Linked DNA regions of Homo sapiens: regions 2 and 3 are each linked to region 1. Evidence: fine-mapped expression QTL. A gene starts in region 1. Each other region holds a variant in brackets. All regions are shown on one strand. Distances are from middle to middle.

Evidence for each region. PIP is the estimated chance that this variant, and not a neighbour inherited with it, causes the effect.
Region 2: its variant is the best candidate, but not a certain one, in a credible set for the expression of CDS2 in monocytes (Quach 2016, PIP 0.83).
Region 3: its variant is the best candidate, but not a certain one, in a credible set for the expression of CDS2 in whole blood (INTERVAL, PIP 0.70).

Annotation. Positions count from the first base shown.
Region 1 is chr20:5,124,366-5,130,073 of GRCh38, reverse strand. It overlaps CDS2 (CDP-diacylglycerol synthase 2), which reads right to left and starts at 3,066. Exons shown (of 13, transcript NM_003818.4): 1 at 2,925-3,066. The coding sequence starts at 2,981. It also overlaps a transcript of PCNA not described here. RefSeq lists enhancers at 2,228-2,317, 2,894-3,395 and a silencer at 2,658-3,577.
Region 2 is chr20:5,177,799-5,183,506 of GRCh38, reverse strand. CDS2 (CDP-diacylglycerol synthase 2) reads right to left here. Exons shown (of 13, transcript NM_003818.4): 5 at 4,551-4,690; 6 at 1,062-1,120; 7 at 364-446. Among named protein-coding and RNA genes, the nearest start is that of CDS2, 54 kb to the right of the region's middle. The variant C/T (reference allele first, on the strand shown) is at 3,324.
Region 3 is chr20:5,198,425-5,204,132 of GRCh38, reverse strand. No RefSeq gene overlaps it. Among named protein-coding and RNA genes, the nearest start is that of CDS2, 74 kb to the right of the region's middle. The variant T/C (reference allele first, on the strand shown) is at 2,912.

The sequences.
Region 1 (5,708 bases):
TTGAACACGGGAGGTGGAGGTTGCAGTGAGCCGAGATTGTGCCATTGCACTCCAGCCTGGGCAACAAGAGCGAAACTCTGTCTCAAAAAAAAACAAAAAAACAAACCAACAAACAAAAGTTTACTATATACATTCAAAGACAAATAATAGATTTCACAGTTTTTAAAATGTTCCCTTATTAAAAATCCCAAACATGGCCAGGTGTGGTGGCTCACGTCTGTAGTCTCAGCACTTTGGGAGACCGAGGCGGGCAGATCACGAAGTCAGGAGTTCAAGACCAGCCTGGCCAATACAGTGAAACCCCATCTCTACTAAAAATACAAAAAAAAAAACGCCAGGTACAGTGGCTCATGCCTATAATCCCAGCACTTTGGGAAGCTGAGGCGGGAGGATCACCTAAGGTTGGGAGTTTGAGGCCAGCCTGACCAACATTGAGAAGCCGTGCCTCTACTAAAAATACAACATTAGCCGGGCATGGTAGCACACGCCTGCAGTCCCAGCTACTCGGGCGGCTGAGGCAGGAGAATTGCTTGAACCTGGGAGGTAGAGGTTGCGATGAGCCAACATCATGCCATTGCACTCCAGCCTGGGCAAAAGAGCGAAACTCCCTCTCAAAAAAAAAAAAAAAAATTAGCCGAGCGTGGTGGCGGATGCCTATAGTCCCAGCTACTCAGGAGGCTGAGGCAGGAGACTAGCTTGAACCTGGGAGGCAGAGGTTGCAGTGAGCTGAGATCGTGCCACTGCACTCCAGCCTGGGCGACAGAGAGAGACTCCGTCTAAAAAAATAATAATAATAAAATCCCATACATGACAATTCAGTGACAATTGAGAAGTTCTGAATAATGGGGTGAGGAACTGATTGTCTTGTTCTCGGTAATGAACATCAGGCTTTTAACAGAGTGCATAGCAGCTGTCTTTTAGGAAACAACACGCCACAAGTGGACCTCATGACCCCAGGCATTCTGTCACTGTATAAGTGATATAAGTGCACCTCTAGCTGGACAGCTCCTCAGGTCCTCCCAGTCTAAAGTACAGGATGTGAAAGTAAGACGGTTCAACTCGCACTTTATCTCTGGGGGATGGATCCAACGAGTCCGGGAAGGAGGGTAGAATCTTTATGTTGCATCTCATAATCCCAAGGTTGTTTTTTGACATTCTAATTATTGTACATAGTTAGCTTTTCAAAAACATGGCCCACCAGCTATCATGCCTTCTTTCTTCTCTCTCTCCTCACACCTTCTAGGTCCACAAAGTCCCACTAACATCAAGCATGATCTCACCCTTAAACAGAGCTACAGAGCCTCCAAACATCTGCATACTCACCAACTAGTAGTACAAGGTAAGTCAGAATTCTTTCAGGCTGAACCAGGATAGCCAAATGAAAAATTAGAGACTTCAAAGTATCTTGTCTCTGCAAGCGACTGCTAAATCCTCAGCCCCAGCCCTAAATGTTCTCCAAAATATGTTTTTGTTTTTGTTTTTTGAGACAGGGTCTCAAACTCCTGGGCTCAAGCGATCCTCCTGCCTCAGCCTCCCTAGAAGCTAGGATTACAGGCGAGCAGCACTGTGCCTGGCCAAAATATATGTTCTAAAAATCGGTAGGAACAGTTCTCTTTGGATAGTCCACTGTCAACTGCAATAACACGAAAGTTGTTTAAAAAAAACCCATGATCTCATTATCTTTCACCAAAAACATTCCTCCTAGTGTAACTGCTCTGTTGACATCCTGTCACCAAATCTTGTGCTTTCTTCCTTCTGGGTGTCTCCCTAATGTCCGTTGCGTCCAGTCATCAAAAAGTTACAGGCTGCATTAGGGGAAGCCGTGAGCCTGGTGTAAGGCAACAGGGATTGGTGGGAACCGATGATCCTCAGCTCCAGCCAACCATTGAGCAGGTGACAAAGTGATGGTGGACCCTCCAATTATCTAAGACAGGCAAGAAATTTAGATTGTTAGGAGAAACTTTCTGATTTTTAAGGCAATATGTGGGCCAAAGAAAACATCTACAGGTCACTCATGGGCAATCCCGAGTGAACCAGGCTCCCTCAGTCTGGTCCAGGCTCCCTCAGTCCCTTCTACACATCACTGTCTGATCAGTTTCCCAAACACAGGGCTCCTGATCACTGCTATCTCGGAAAGCACAACTACTGCTACAAAGTCCTATACTGCCATTCAACCTCCACAGTAATAAAACCAATCCCTACCTTCCTTAACTCCCCTACACAGATCTTTCACTTCACCCAAAGGAGTCCACTCCCCCACCCGTCACCCCCGCCACTGTCCCCGCCAAGATGGCCTCCTTCCTACTCTCCTCCCCTACCCACCAGAGCCCACACGGTGCAGGAAACAACCCATCAACCGGGAGGACGCCCTCCAACACCTGCTGATGACGGACTGGCTCACTGGGTAACACCCCTTTGCTCAAAGCCGATGATTTCATGCCCAAGAAGGGATTTACATCTCCCAGGAGGCAAATGCTATGGCCTTGTCCTGATTCCCCCACCCCCCAAAATAATAACATTGTAAAAGGGAACGGAGAGCCTAAGTTGCGCTCAGAGGAGCCGCCTCCCTAAGAAGGCTCTGCATATCTTCACCTCCAGGAAGGCCTCACGGAGTTGGGGGAGAGGGGAGTCCCCGCAGCCAGCCCAGCGAGGCAGGAGGCCGTGCGCCACTCCCGAGAAGCTCCTTCCTGCGCCCCGGGGGAGCCACTTCAGTCAGACCCTGAGCCGGGACCCCGACCCGCCGACCCCTGACGCGCGCGCCGCGAAGGCCGGGCACCCGAGGGCCCTTCGCGCTACCCGGGCCCGGGGCCGCCGTCGGCTGCGACAAAGGGTCAGAGAACAAGACGACCCCTCTGCGCGCGTCCCCCGCAGGCCTCCCGGATGCGCCGCTGTCCCGGCCGCGCCCACCCCGACGCTGCCGCTACCTTGTCCTCGGGTGGCGCAACCGGCTCATGGGCCACCCTCTGCCTCAGCTCTGTCATCCTGGGAAAATCGGCCCGACGTCGCCGCGAGCTAGCAGCGAAGCCGCCGGAGCAGGCAGCTCGGCGCGGGCACGCGCGGACTCCCACGGCCGGCCCCGCCCCGCCCGGGAGGCGCGCGGCTCTGAGCGGCTCACAGTTCCCTTAGCAGCCCAGCAGCCAGCCCTGGAGCTCGGCCCCACCCAGTGCCGTCACCGCCCTTTCACCCGGGCCGAGCGGGGTCAGCCTTCCCTAGCCCCGACCCGAGAGCTCCCTCTCCCGGGAGCAGGGCTCGGAGCGAGTGCGCACGCGCAGCGCCACCATCACGGTCCGGAATATCCACCAATGGCGCAAATACGCCAGGGAGGCAGGGCGACGGGGGCGGGGCGGGGCGGAGCAGAGTCGAGAGGCGCGCATTGGACGGCAGCGTCAGGGGCGGGAAAAGGCGTGCGTTTCAGTGTGCGATTAGCCAATGGGAGCTCCCGCTTAACCGCGGATGGCCGGAGCTGGCGCCCTGGTTCTGGAGGTAACCGGTTACTGAGGGCGAGAAGCGCCACCCGGAGGCTCTAGCCTGACAAATGCTTGCTGACCTGGGCCAGAGCTCTTCCCTTACGCAAGTAAGTAGACGTTATTTAGGTCGAATGGAAAGGCCAGGTGAGCCGACCTGGTTAAGAGCATTTTATCACTTATCACATGATGAGAAATGAAACCCACGCTTCAGTCTGCTTTGCTTTGCCAAGCGGTCGCTAGTACTTGTTAAGCACTAATTGTATACTAGGCACTGAGCTGAGTAATCGCTTTAGTTGGCTTATCTCGTTTAATCCACACATGGCTTGGAAGTGGGTATGATTTGAATTTTACAGTTAAGATCTTCCTCAGTGGTTTGTTTGTTTGTTCGTTTGTTTGTTTGTTTTGTGACGGAGTCTCGCTCTGTCGCCCAGGCTGGAGTGCAGTGGCATGATCTCGACTCACTGCAACCTCTGCCTCCCGGGCGCAAACAATTCCAAGGTGCGCGCCACCACGCCCGGCTAACTTTTGTATTTTTAGTAGAGACGGGGTTTCACCATATTGGTCAGGCTGGTCTCGAACTCCTGACCTCAGGTGATCCGTCCGCCTCCGCCTTCCAAAGTGCTGGGATTACAGGCGTGAGCCACCGAGCCTGGCCCTTCCTCAGTTTTTCAAATTTGTCTTCTGGACTATGGAAAGACCTTTTTTGGGACAGAAGTGCTGTCTACTTTGTTTACTGTGCATCCTCTATGTCTTTGACACATCCATTGTAAGTACTTGTTGGATGGATTTAAAACTTTTAAAAGGACCTTAGCCAAGGTCTCCCAGCTAGAAAGTGCCTAGTAAGAATTAGAACACAAACAGGTTTGTTACCAGCCCACACTCTAACCACCATACTATACTGCCTGCCTGCATTTATTAATACTTGTGTTGCTCCAGCATTGCCTTTGGTGTTTCCTGTTCTTTCTATTCACTGCCCTGTAAGTGATGTAAAACACATATAACACTGCGTCCCCAACTTAAGCATACTGTAATCTCACAATGAGACACTTGCACACAAAAGAATTGCAATTTCGTTTTTTAAAAAAATATAATTTTACATTTTTCTTCTTTTCAATTTTTAAATTTTAATTAATTTATTTCTCCTTTTTTTAGAGACAGGGTCTCACTATGTTGCCCAGACTGGTCTTGAACTCCTGGGTTCAAGAGATCCTCCCGCCTAGGTCTCCCAAAGTGCTGGGATTACAGGCATGAGCTACCATGCCTGGCTAAAATTTCCTATTGGTAATTTTGACCTGAGCTGTGAGTTTTGGGGCAGGTAGTGAGAATTCTGAAAACAGCATTATATATTCCTGATTTCTATATGAGTATATGCCCGAGTAGCTTGGACTACAGGTGTGCAGCACCACACCCAGCTAACTTTTAAATTTTTGTGTAGCGATGAAGTCTCACTTTATTGCTTAGGCTGGTCTTAAACTCCTGGGCTCGAGCAATCCTCCCACATAGGCCTCCTAAAGTTCTGGGATTACAGGCATGAGCCACAGCACTCGAGCAAGATGATCTTCTAAGACAGGTGAAGATGTTAGTGTCTAGAACTTCACCTTCAGGGGCACGTAGGTATGAAAGGTCATATCTAAGTGAGTGTCATGTCAGTCCTTCTAGAAACTCAGCTGCTCCTTTTCAAATCCAGCCTAATAAAAGGAGGCTTGGAGAATCAATGCACATAAGTCAGAATTATAGAATGCACAGCATGATTACTAGGATGGATAACATGTGGTCTGAACAAACTTCTCATCCATTACACTCAGCCCTCTCAGGTTAATGGAACTCAGATCAAGTATATTCCTGAAGTCAGTACTGTGTGACGAACAGGGGTCTGGTGGAAGTGATGCTAATAGGGCTTTAGGCCAGCTTTAGAGCCCTTCTCTCTCTCTCTTTTCGTTTTTTGTTTTCTTTTTGTTTGTTTTTTGTTTTTTTTTTTTAGACAGTTTCCCTCTTGTTGCTCAGGCTGGAGTGCAATGGTGTGATCTCGGCTCACTGCAACCTCCGCCTCCCAGGTTCAAGCAATTCTCCTGTCTCAGCCTCCCGAGTAGCTGGGACTACAGGCGCCCGCCACCACAGCTGGCTAATTTTTGTATTTTTAGTAGAGACAGGGGTTTTAGGTCAGGCTGGTTTTGAATTCTTGACCTCAGGTGATCCGCCCACCTGGGCCTCCCAAAGTGCTGGGATTACAGGCATCAGCCA
Region 2 (5,708 bases), 53 kb before region 1:
ATTTTGTCAGGAAATCATGAATATTTCCTCTAGGTTTTCAAATCTGTTGCCATACATGTTGCATTGTCTTTGAGTCTTTAAATATTCCTGTACCTATTAGTCTAGAACAGTGGTTCTCAGAGCATAGGTCCTGTCCAGCAATATAAGCACCACCCAGGAATGTACTAGAAATTCAAATTCTCAAGCCTACCCCAGATCTAATGAATCAAAAAGTCAGGGGTGGGGTCCAGCAATCTGTGCTATAATGAACCCTGCAGAGGATTCTGATGTGGCTCAAGGTGAGGGCCACTGGCTTAGAGGGGGGTATCTGTACACGAGAAACACTCACAAAATAAAAGGGAAAATCCAACTCCCAATTCTCACCAGATCATTCCTTCAAATAGGTTGTGGATAACAAGATGTGACTGTGTTACAACAATCAGCAATGTCACATGGGTCCAGCCAAACTGCAAAAAAAAGAAAAATAAACACTACTTACCAGTTTACCTTGAAAGTAACTTCAAAGAACAATCAATACCAAATAGAAAACTGCTGAGAAGCAGGTAGGAAAAATATCTGCTTTTGTATCTGACTTATTGAAAGTGAACAGGTAAGATCAGGCTTCTGAGAGTAATACTTTGTCCCCCACAGCCCACTAGTGAGTGAGCTCTCCCATGCTCTGAAAGCCTGGGTATTTTTCATTTTCTTAGTAGTTATTGAGCACCTGGAGCACTCAGAGAGGAGCTGTTCTCTAGTGAGTCAGGGAATAAGTGGTAGCAAGTGATGTACCAGACAGGACATCTGTGGGCAGTGTCTGAAGCTTCAGCTTGTGCCTTCTCTGGAGCCCACCTCAGGGTCCTAGTGGAGAGGCTGCTTAAGGTGTAAGTAACAGTGACTGGGTCTAAGTCAACGTAGAGCCATTAAACCTAAATGGGCATTCTTCCTTCATGCTCTAGATGCATACATATCAGACCATGTTCCTGAGTTTTGATTTGTCACAGAAAGCATGAAAGGCTTGTTGAGTTCCTGAAAAACTTCATTTAAATCAAGAATTCTGACACACACGCATGCATTTCCTTTACCATGTAGAACTGCAGTCGATAATGCTTCTTGACCAGACTCAGTACAAACATGCAGAATCCTAGTTTGAGGTGGGAGGAGAAAAGAAAAATGAATTATGTTCTGCATTTATCTTTGCCCTCCTTTAGCTATGTTAAGTGGTTCTTTGGCTAATTTATTCCCAGCAGCTAACCAGTGCACAATGTCAAAGCCCAGGGGAGAAAAACATTACCCAGATAAACAGTCACAAGGAAAAAATAACTCCTCCCAAACAGTAAAAGGAAGGCAATATTTTATAATCATGCAGACCACACTAAACTTAGAACATGGTTCATCAGATAGGAATGTTTTATTCCTAGAACATGGGCCAGCAAACAGTGGTCAGGCCAGCTGCTTGTTTTTATAAATAAAGTTTTATTCAAACACAGTTATGTCCATTTGTTTACATATTGTCTATGGCTGCTTTCAAGCTACAACTCAGCAGAACTGAGTACAGTCATGCTCTGAACAACGAGGTTCTCGTCAACAACACACCACATACACAACAACAGTTCCCTAAGGTTATAATACCCATAGATTATAATACCATAAGATTTACTAATTACCATATAGTACCTTTTCTATGTTTAGATACACAAATACTTACCATTGTGTTATAATTGCCTACAGTATTTATTTAGTAAGGTAACATGCTGTACAGGTTTGTACTCTAAGAGAAATAGACTACACATTATAGCCTAGGTGTGTAGGAGGCTATACCATCTAGGTCTGCATAAGTACACTCTACAATGTTTGCACAATGACAAAATGACAACAATGCATTTCCGAGAACATAGCCCATGGTTAAACGATGCATGACTGTAACTGCAAGAGACCCTATGGTCCCCAAAGCCTAAAATATTTACTGTTTGGAACTTTAATAAAAAGTTTGCTGCCTGTTGTGCCTACAGAGTAGCAATTCTTTTATTCCTTTACTTTCTTAATAGACTTGCTTTCACTTTCCTCCACAGACTCGCCCCAAACTCCTTCTTGTATGAGATCCAATAACACTCTCTTGGGGTCCGGGTCTGGACCCCTTTCTGGTAACATCTTTCTGGTGAACCCCAAAGGGACAATACTGAGGAGACCCCCAACCCAAAGGAAATAGACTGCAGCACTGATTGGCTGACTTTGGTTTTTTTCTGCAATTTAGACTGCTTGTTCCTGTGAACCAACCAGTGATCTCTGGCTGCAGCTCAGAAGAAACAAGAGGGATTGGTGATGTAAAAATCTGAATCAGTATTCTAATTCTGGGAACATATTGCAATCAGCTACCGACCCCGTATCAGCTTGGTTCCAACAATTACCCAGTTCATGGAAAGCCTTCTTTAGTTTACTTGGGATAGTTTTGCTTATTTTGCTTTACTGATATGGAATAGTTGTACTATTTGTGTAGGAATGCAGGATAAGCTTACTCAATGTTCTCTTAAACACTTACAAAATCTTCCAGATATCACTTTGTGTCCGAGCTGTGAATAGCCCTAACCATACTGACACTTTCTGACTGAGCTCCTCTCTACCCTGAATACAAGAGACCTCGATAGGTAGGCAGGAATATCATTGCCCCTAATCAGCCTGAAGAAGTTACAGAGGATGGATCTTCGTCCCTCTGCAACCCTTAGGATTAAGGGTTCTCTTATAAAAGTGATGGGGGAAATGTCAGAGGCATTTGAGCTAGAGCAACTCCATCCTGAATAGGAGCTGGGTAAAATGAGGCTGAGATCTACAGGGTCTGCATTCCCAGACGGTTAGGTATTCTAAGTCACAGGATGAGATAGGAGGTCACACAAGATACAGGTCATAAAGACCTTGCTGAGAAAACAACTGCAGTAAAGAAGCTGGCCAAACCCCTCCAAAATCAAGATAGCAATGAGAATGACCTCTGCTTGTCCTAATTGCTACACTCCAATCAGTGACATGGCAGTTTACAAATGCCATGGCAACATCAGGAAATTACCCTATATGATCTAAAAAAAGGAAACATGAATAATCCACCCTTTGTTTAGCATATAATCAAGAAATAACCATAAAAATGGGCAACCAGCAGCCCTCGGGGCTGCTCTAAGGGCCATTCTTTTATTCCTTTACTTTCTTAATAAACTTGCTTCCCCTTAAAAAAAAAAAAAAAGTTTGCCAATACCTGTCCTAGTATTCATAGGGCTGGGAGAAGAGGGATCCACATGGTATAGGGTCAAGACCACCTTTTTATCTCTCTCACAGTGACCTAGATGGTAGCACAACATGTC[C/T]GCAGACCCCTTCTCCAGGAAGGAAAGGAACCTTTATCCATAAACATGCGGAGATCCTCAAAAGCAGTTCTGCCCAGAAATAAGCATGTCGCTTTTCCAGACCCCTTACCTCCCACTGTGGAAGGCTGCTTTCGGGGTCTGCAGCATACTCTCTGAATATCCTCAATGGCAGCAGACCCCTTTGCAGATTTTATATTTTAATAGTCAGGTGTCATTCACAGAAGTATTGCTATCAAGCTGATCAAAAATAGGTCAGATTGACATTGAGGTCAGAACAAATTTTTCGTGCACCTCAAACTAGCTTTGAAGGTAGCTATGAAAAACCATCAGCATTATTAGAATTAGTACGTGGCCTTACCTGAATGTATACTAATATAACGCTTTAATGTTTGTGAAGTTTTAATGTATTTGATTTAATCCTCACAGTAACCCTGCAGTTTTAGCTCTAGATTACAAAAGAGCTGAGACTCAGAAATATTATGTTCCTAGCTCCCCCTGAGGTTGCAGAGTCTACGCCCAAATCCAGTAAAATTTCCACCATGCTACAATGTCACCCAAGGCGGTCTCCTAAAATGACTCCCCTAAAGATGGTAAGTTCCTAGATGATTTTTGTTTCGGTCCCACTGCAGAATCTTTGCCAACAGGAGAGTCAGGACAGGACCATGCTGTGCTGTTCCTCAATGGTGGCTGAAACACAGGGGCAGGTGGCACAGGCCACAGTCCTGCCCCTACACTCTGCTTCTCTTAAAAGAGCTCCTACAAGGCCGGGCGTGGTGGCTCACACCTGTAATCCCAGCACTTTGGGAGGCCAAGGCAGGCGGATAAGTTAAACTCGGGAGTTCGGAACCAGCCTGGCCAACATGGCGAAACTCGGTCTCTACTAAAAATACAAAAATTAGCTGGGCATGGTAGCAGGCACCTGTAGTCCCAGCTACTTCGGGACCTGAGGTGGGAGGATCGCTTCAACTTGGGAGGTGGAGGTTGCAGTCAGCCGAGATGGTGCCACTGCACTCTGGCCTGGGTGACAGAGTGAGACCCTGGCTCAAAAAAAAAAAAAAAAAAGGTAACAGCTGCTACAGCTTAACATAGAGCATCAGCTCTGCTCCCCTGCATGGTCACAGTTAATGTCACAAAACTGTATACTAACCAAGAAATTCCCCAATTCCTACCTGACAGACATACAAAAACAATACAGACACAAGAAATGGTGAACTGCTTAATGCATACCTATTAGATAGAGAGTAAAGGAAATGAACCGGTGGTATTTACTGAGAATCCGCAAAGGCTCTTCTCTCTGGACCAGGGTGAAGAAGTAATCCGTCACTGTCTCACCATAGAAGAAATAGTTTACACACAGGAGAAAGTACCTGTAAATGAAGACAGGTCATTGCCGTGGGGAGCACCCTTGCCTTCACAGCAAGGCAGTCAGACATCCCAGAGGAAGGGACAGAGGGCAGCAGAATACCCCCCACCCTTGAGTCCCCCGGGACAGCTCACAGAGCAACAGGCAGACCATGGTTTCCTGCTCTCTGGTGACACCGTAGGTGAGAAATTTATCTAGAAACAGACAGCAGCTTTCATTCACTCTCCATTTCTCCCAAACTTGAGACTCCGTTTTTGCCCCTTTTGTAGCATTCCCATACCTAACTGAGGGATCCTTGAACCATATGACCTTCAAAAACACGCCTCATCCTGCTTCCCCAGTCTCGTTTCCACTCTTCCCAACAGGAACTCCTTCACTCCTATCAAAATGGTTTCTTCCGGCTTTGCCACACCTGTCTGCTGTTCTCCTGCCTTTTTCCTGCTCCTGACATTCTCTTTGCTTCTCCATTTCTTCACTCCTTGCTCAAATGCCATTTTATTCATAAAACTTTGCATGACCTAACATGACATCTGCCTCCCCTGCATTTATTTCTATAGCAAGTAATATGTGATTATCTGACTAAGCAATTAATGATGCATCTGCCTCTCTGAAGCCTGGCTCTGACAAACAGACCTTCCATTAGCGTTAACTCTTCACTTGTGTATTCTCTCTCCTCAACTGGCGTTCATGAGAAGAGAAGCCATCCCTTGCAGCCTCCACAGTACTGCTGAGTATGGCACCATGCAGCCATCACTGCAAACCCCCAGCAAGGATCCTGAGATAGAGAAGAAAGTGGAGAGCTTTTCTTTCCCATTCTTTTTTTTAAATTATGAAGTACAAAAACTCCCATATTGGGTTTCTTTTCTGTTACATGGAAAAAACTTTCTTTGTAAAGTGACCACAGCCAGGAGTCAGGCCTCCTGAGTATGTTAACAAAATGCAAAACACTGCTTTCCAGCTAAAGAACAGCCACAAAAGGGACCTGCATCTTAAGCCAGGTGGCAATCCCAATTCCATCTGGA
Region 3 (5,708 bases), 74 kb before region 1:
TCAACCTCAGCTACACTTTGGAGTAAGTCCAGGGAACTGCTTTTTTTAAAACTCATGCCTGCATCCCACCCCCAGAGACTCTTATCTCATTGGTCTGAGATACTGCCTGGGCACTGGTAGTTTTTTAGGTTCCTCAGGCAATTCTAATGTGCAGCCAAGTTTGAGAATCAATGGCTTCAAAGGCTCTACCTCTAAGGCTCCTGGAATCTACGAGAAATAGAGACCATGTGGGCAAGATCAGAGAGCCCATCTTAGCTGCAGGAATAACTTCAGTTGCCTCAGTCAAATCCACCATCGGTCAAATCTTTGCTGCAGGAATAACTTCAGTTCCCTTGGTCAAATCCAGATCAGAATTTACCCTGAACCTAGACTCAGTCTGATGGATGTGCTTTTTACCCTAAAAATGTGTTTAAGTTTGTTAAAATTGAGAAGTGATATTAACGGAAATGGCACAATGGTGTTTATTTCATTTGAGAACTCCCTAAGTTTTGGTTGATTTGGGAACTGGCAGTGTCCTTTGGTAAATATTGGATGGCGTGTAAGTGAGTACGCCATGGCCAGGCCATGAGTCCATCTCTGGGACTTCCCACCCCGACTGCCTGGCCTCTAAATAATCAAATAGAGAAGTTACTCTTGCTTTGTTTCCCTTCCTCTCCTTTCCCAGGAGACCAAAAGGTAAAGCTGCCCTTTCTTCTCAAGGGAAGAGCACTCAGGCCTCTAGAATTCTGGCCCCAGGAGAAAATTAATAGCTGCTTCTGCTGTGAGGTGGGAGTGGGGCCACCTGAAGGCAACTCTACCCAGGCCTTTCCCCAGGCCTGAAGGCTGGATTGTCTTATTGAAGGGAAGGGAGTAGCCCTAGCTAAAAAGTAGATCCTCAAGTCCAAAACGACGGAGGGGCTCATCTCCAGACCTTAGCTCCTCTCCGTCGATGATTTTATCCAGTCTTCCGGCTCCTGGTGTAGAATAACGCGCACACCCTCATCACTCTCAAATTTCTATTTCCATCTCGGACTACTCCCCAGGACTGGACATCCCTGTGTGGGTATCTCACAGGCATCTCAAACCTAGCGTGTCCAAACCCAAACTCCTGACTGACCCTCTCTAATCCACCTCCCACCTGCACCTGTCCTCCCACAGCCGTCCACAGTTTAGAAATGGCAGCACCATCCTTCCGGCCGCCCAAGCCAACTTCACAGCCCTCCTTGACTCCTCTTCGTCCCTCTCCTCCATACCTAATCCTTCTGCAGATTCTGACAATCTGACCATTTCTCACCACCGCCCCACTCCCATATCCCCTGCTGAGCCACGTGTGTGTGTGTGTGTGTGTGTGTGTGTGTCTGTGTGTGTGTGTCTGTGTGTGTGTGTGTCTGTCTCTCTCTCTTCTGGATCGCTGCTGTTGCCTCCTCTCTGATCACCCTGCTTTCACCCTTGGCCCACTGTAGTCTGTTCTCAACATAGCAGCCCTTTGCAAACAAACACCACTTTGACACTCCTAGGCTCTGAACTCCCCAACAGCTTCTTATCTTGCTCAGAGTAAAAGCCAATGGCCTTGGCCCTGTGTAATTCCCCTGGGTTTCCTGCCAGTGCTCCTCCCCACTTCCCTGCTCCATCCACCCTGCAGTTCCTCCACAGCACAGGTGTCTTTGCACTTCCCCAGATACCTGAACAGCTCCCTCCCCCACAGCCTCGAGGTGTGTCCATTTGCCCAAACACCACCTCTGCAGTGAGGCCTTCCCTGTTCACCCTATTTAAAATGGCAACCTCTCCCTACCAGCAATCCCTCTTCCCTCCTTCTGGCTACATTTTTCTCCATCTAACATCCTTTCTCAGGTTTGTCGTTCTTCCCTAAAATGAGCTCCATGAAACAAGGACTTTTTGTTGCAGTGTCTGGACAGGGCCTACCCCAGAGCAGGCACTCCACAAGTGCTGGCTGAACACACAGCCAGCGGCGGCTCACGCCTGTAATCCCAGCACTTTGGGAGGCCAAGGTGGGTGGATCACCTGAGGTCAGGAGTTTGAGACCAGCCTGGCCAACATGGCGAAATCCTGTCTCTACTAAAAATATAAAAAAATTAGCGGGGTGTGGTGGCACATGCCTGTAATCCCAGCTACTTGGGAGGCTGAGGCAGGAGAATCACTTGAACCTGGCAGGCGAAGGTTGCAGTGAGCTGAGATCCAACCACTGAACTCCACCCTGGGCAACAGAGGGAGACTCTGTCTCAAAAAAAAAAAAAAAAAATTGTATTGCCTAGGTTTTCTTCTAGGGTTTCTATGGTTTTAGGTCTAACATTTAAGTCTTTAATCCATCTTGAATTAATTTTTGTATAAGGTGTAAGGAGGGGATCCAGTTTCAGCTTTCTACATATGGCTAGCCAGTTTTCCCAGCACCATTTATTAAATAGGGAATCCTTTCCCCATTGCTTGTTTTTCTCAGGTTTGTCAAAGATCAGATAGTTGCAGATATGCAGCATTATTTCTGAGGGCTCTGTTCTGTTCCATTGGTCTATATCTCTGTTTTGGTACCAGTACCATGCTGTTTTGGTTACTGTAGCCTTGTAGTATAGTTTGAAGTCAGGTAGCATGATGCCTCCAGCTTTGTTCTTTTGGCTTAGGATTCACTTGGCAATGCGGGCTCTTTTTTGGTTCCATATGAACTTCAAAGTAGTTTTTTCCAATTCTGTGAAGAAAGTCATTGGTAGCTTGATGGGGATGGCATTGAATCTGTAAATTACCTTGGGCAGTATGGCCATTTTCACCATATTGATTCTTCCTACCCATGAGCATGGAATGTTCTTCCATTTGTTTGTATCCTCTTTAATTTCATTGAGCAGTGGTTTGTAGTTCTCTTTGAAGAGGTCCTTCACGTCCCTTGTAAGTTGGATTCCTAGGTATTTTATTCTCTTTGAAGCAA[T/C]TGTGAATGGGAGTTCACTCATGATTTGGCTGTTTGTCTGTTATTGGTGTATAAGAATGCTTGTGATTTTTGCACATTGATTTTGTATCCTGAGACTTTGCTGAAGTTGCCTATCAGCTTAAGGAGATTTTGGGCTGAGACGATGGGGTTTTCTAGATACACAATCATGTCATCTGCAAAGAGGGACAATTTGACTTCCTCTTTTCTCAACTGAATACCCTTTATTTCTTTCTCCTGCCTGATTGCCCTGGCCAGAACTTCCAACACTATGTTGAATAGGAGTGGTGAGAGAGGGCATCCCTGTCTTGTGCCAGTTTTCAAAGGGAATGCTTCCAGTTTTTGCCCATTCAGTATGATACTGGCTGTGGGTTTGTCATAGATAGCTCTTATTATTTTGAGGTACATCCCATCAATACCTAATTTATTGAGCGTTTTTAGCATGAAGCATTGTTGAATTTTGTCAAAGGCCTTTTCTGCATCTATTGAGATAATCATATGGTTTTTTTCGTTGGTTCTGTTTATATACTGGATTACATTTATTGATTTGCGTATGTTGAATGAGCCTTGCATCCCAGGGATGAAGCCCACTTGATCATGGTGGATAAGCTTTTTGATGTGCTGCTGGATTCGGTTTGCCAGTATTTTATTGAGGATTTTTGCATCGATGTTCATCAGGGATATTGGTCTAAAATTCTCTTTTTTGTTGTGTCTAACCTAGGCAATACCATTCAGGACATAGGCACGGGCAAGGACTTCATGTCTAAAACACCAAAAGCAATGGCAACAAAAGCCAAAATTGACAAATAGGATCTAATTAAACTAAAGAGCTTCTGCACAGCAAAATAAACTACCATCAGAGTGAACAGGCAACCTACAGAATAGGAGAAAAATTCTGCAATCTACTCATCTGACAAAGGGCTAATATCCAGAATCTACAATGAACTCAAACAAATTTACAAGAAAAAAACAAACAACCCCATCAAAAAGTGGGCGAAGGATATGAACAGACACTTCTCAAAAGAAGACATTTATGCAGCCAAAAGACACATGAAAAAATGCTCATTATCACTGGCCATCAGAGAAATGCAAATCAAAACCACAATGAGATACCATCTCACACCAGTTAGAATGGCGATCATTAAAATGTCAGGAAACAACAGATCCTGGAGAGGATGTGGAGAAATAGGAACACTTTTACACTGTTGGTGGGACTGTAACTAGTTCAACCATTGTGGAAGTCAGTGTGGCGATTCCTCAGGGATCTAGAACTAGAAATACCATTTGACCCAGCCATCCCATTACTGGGTATATACCCAAAGGATTATAAAACATGCTGCTATAAAGACACATGCACACGTATGTTTATTGCGGCACTATTCACAATAGCAAAGACTTGGAACCAACCCAAATGTCCAACAATGATAGACTGGATTAAGAAAATGTGGCACATATACACCGTGGAATACCACGCAGCCATAAAAAAGGATGAGTTCATGTCCTTTGTAGGGACATGGATGAAGCTGGAAACCATCATTCTCAGCAAACTATCGCAAGAACAAAAAACCAAACACCGCATGTTCTCACGCAGGTAAGAATTGAACAATGAGAACACTTGGACACAGGAAGGGGAACATCACACACCGGGGCCTGTTGTGGGGTGGGGGAGGGGGGAGGGAAAGCATTAGGAGATACACCTAATGTTAAATGATGAGTTAATGGGTGCAGCACACCAACATGGCACATGTATACATATGTAACAAACCTGCACGTTGTGCACATGTACCTTAAAGTATAATAATAAAAAAAAAAAGAAAGAAAGGAGAGAGGAGAAAAAAGAAATCATCAAGACCAGTGTGCGGGGGGCTCTGGATATGGAAGGATGCCAGATGCAGGCAACTGCACAGGTGCTCTGACGCCACTGGCCTAGGGCCTCCTATGGACTTCACAGGGCTGGACAACAGAGCCTTCAGCAGATGGAGTTGAGCCCAGGGACCCTCACCACTTCAGCAACATGTGAGCCCTCGGCTCCTGGTGCAACAAAAGGGAGCAAAGCAGCCAGGGAAAACGACTCATGTTGGTTTTCCCATCAGTCTTGGAAACTGGTGGCTTGCAGTCAGATTTTGTGGGGTTTAGGAAAGTAAGTGAATGCAGTGGGTTTTTCTGCATCTTGAATGTTGGCGAGCAATTCACTGAGGAAATTCCAATGGTAGTAGCTTTCCTATGGGTGAAAATGGCAGAGGCCCCTGTCCAAAAGGTAATCAATCTAGAGGTCCCACTGGCCTCAGACATTTGCCCTGGTAAGGCTGGCCTGCTGGCTCCCAGGAGTTCAGACCCTTCTGTCCTGGGGCAGGAGACACACAGTGAGGAGACAACATAAGGCCTCCCCAAGGAAGTGCTGTTGACGGTGAGAACTGCTAGGAAAAGAGGAGTTAGGCAGGCTGACGAAGAGCTGGGAAAGGAAAAAAACTGGGCAGAGGGCCCACGCCAGGGCCCGGGACAGGCGCACACCTGGAACAAGGAAGGACAAGCGGCAGCTGTGGCTGTGAAGGCAGGGCCCGAATGCGTGGGTCAGGCACTGGCCAGCTCACAGATGGCCCCAGAAGCCTCGTTACCAAGTCTGAACTTTAACCTCAAGACCCAAAGGGTTCCAAGCAGAGAGCTCATCCCAGCTATCATGCAAGAAATGGATTAGAGAGGTGGCCAGGCTGTAGGGAGAGGGCTAGAGGCTGCCTTAGAAATCCTGGCAGGAGATGGGGCCTGGCCCAGAAGGCTGGCAGTAAGGATGATTCCGAGGATG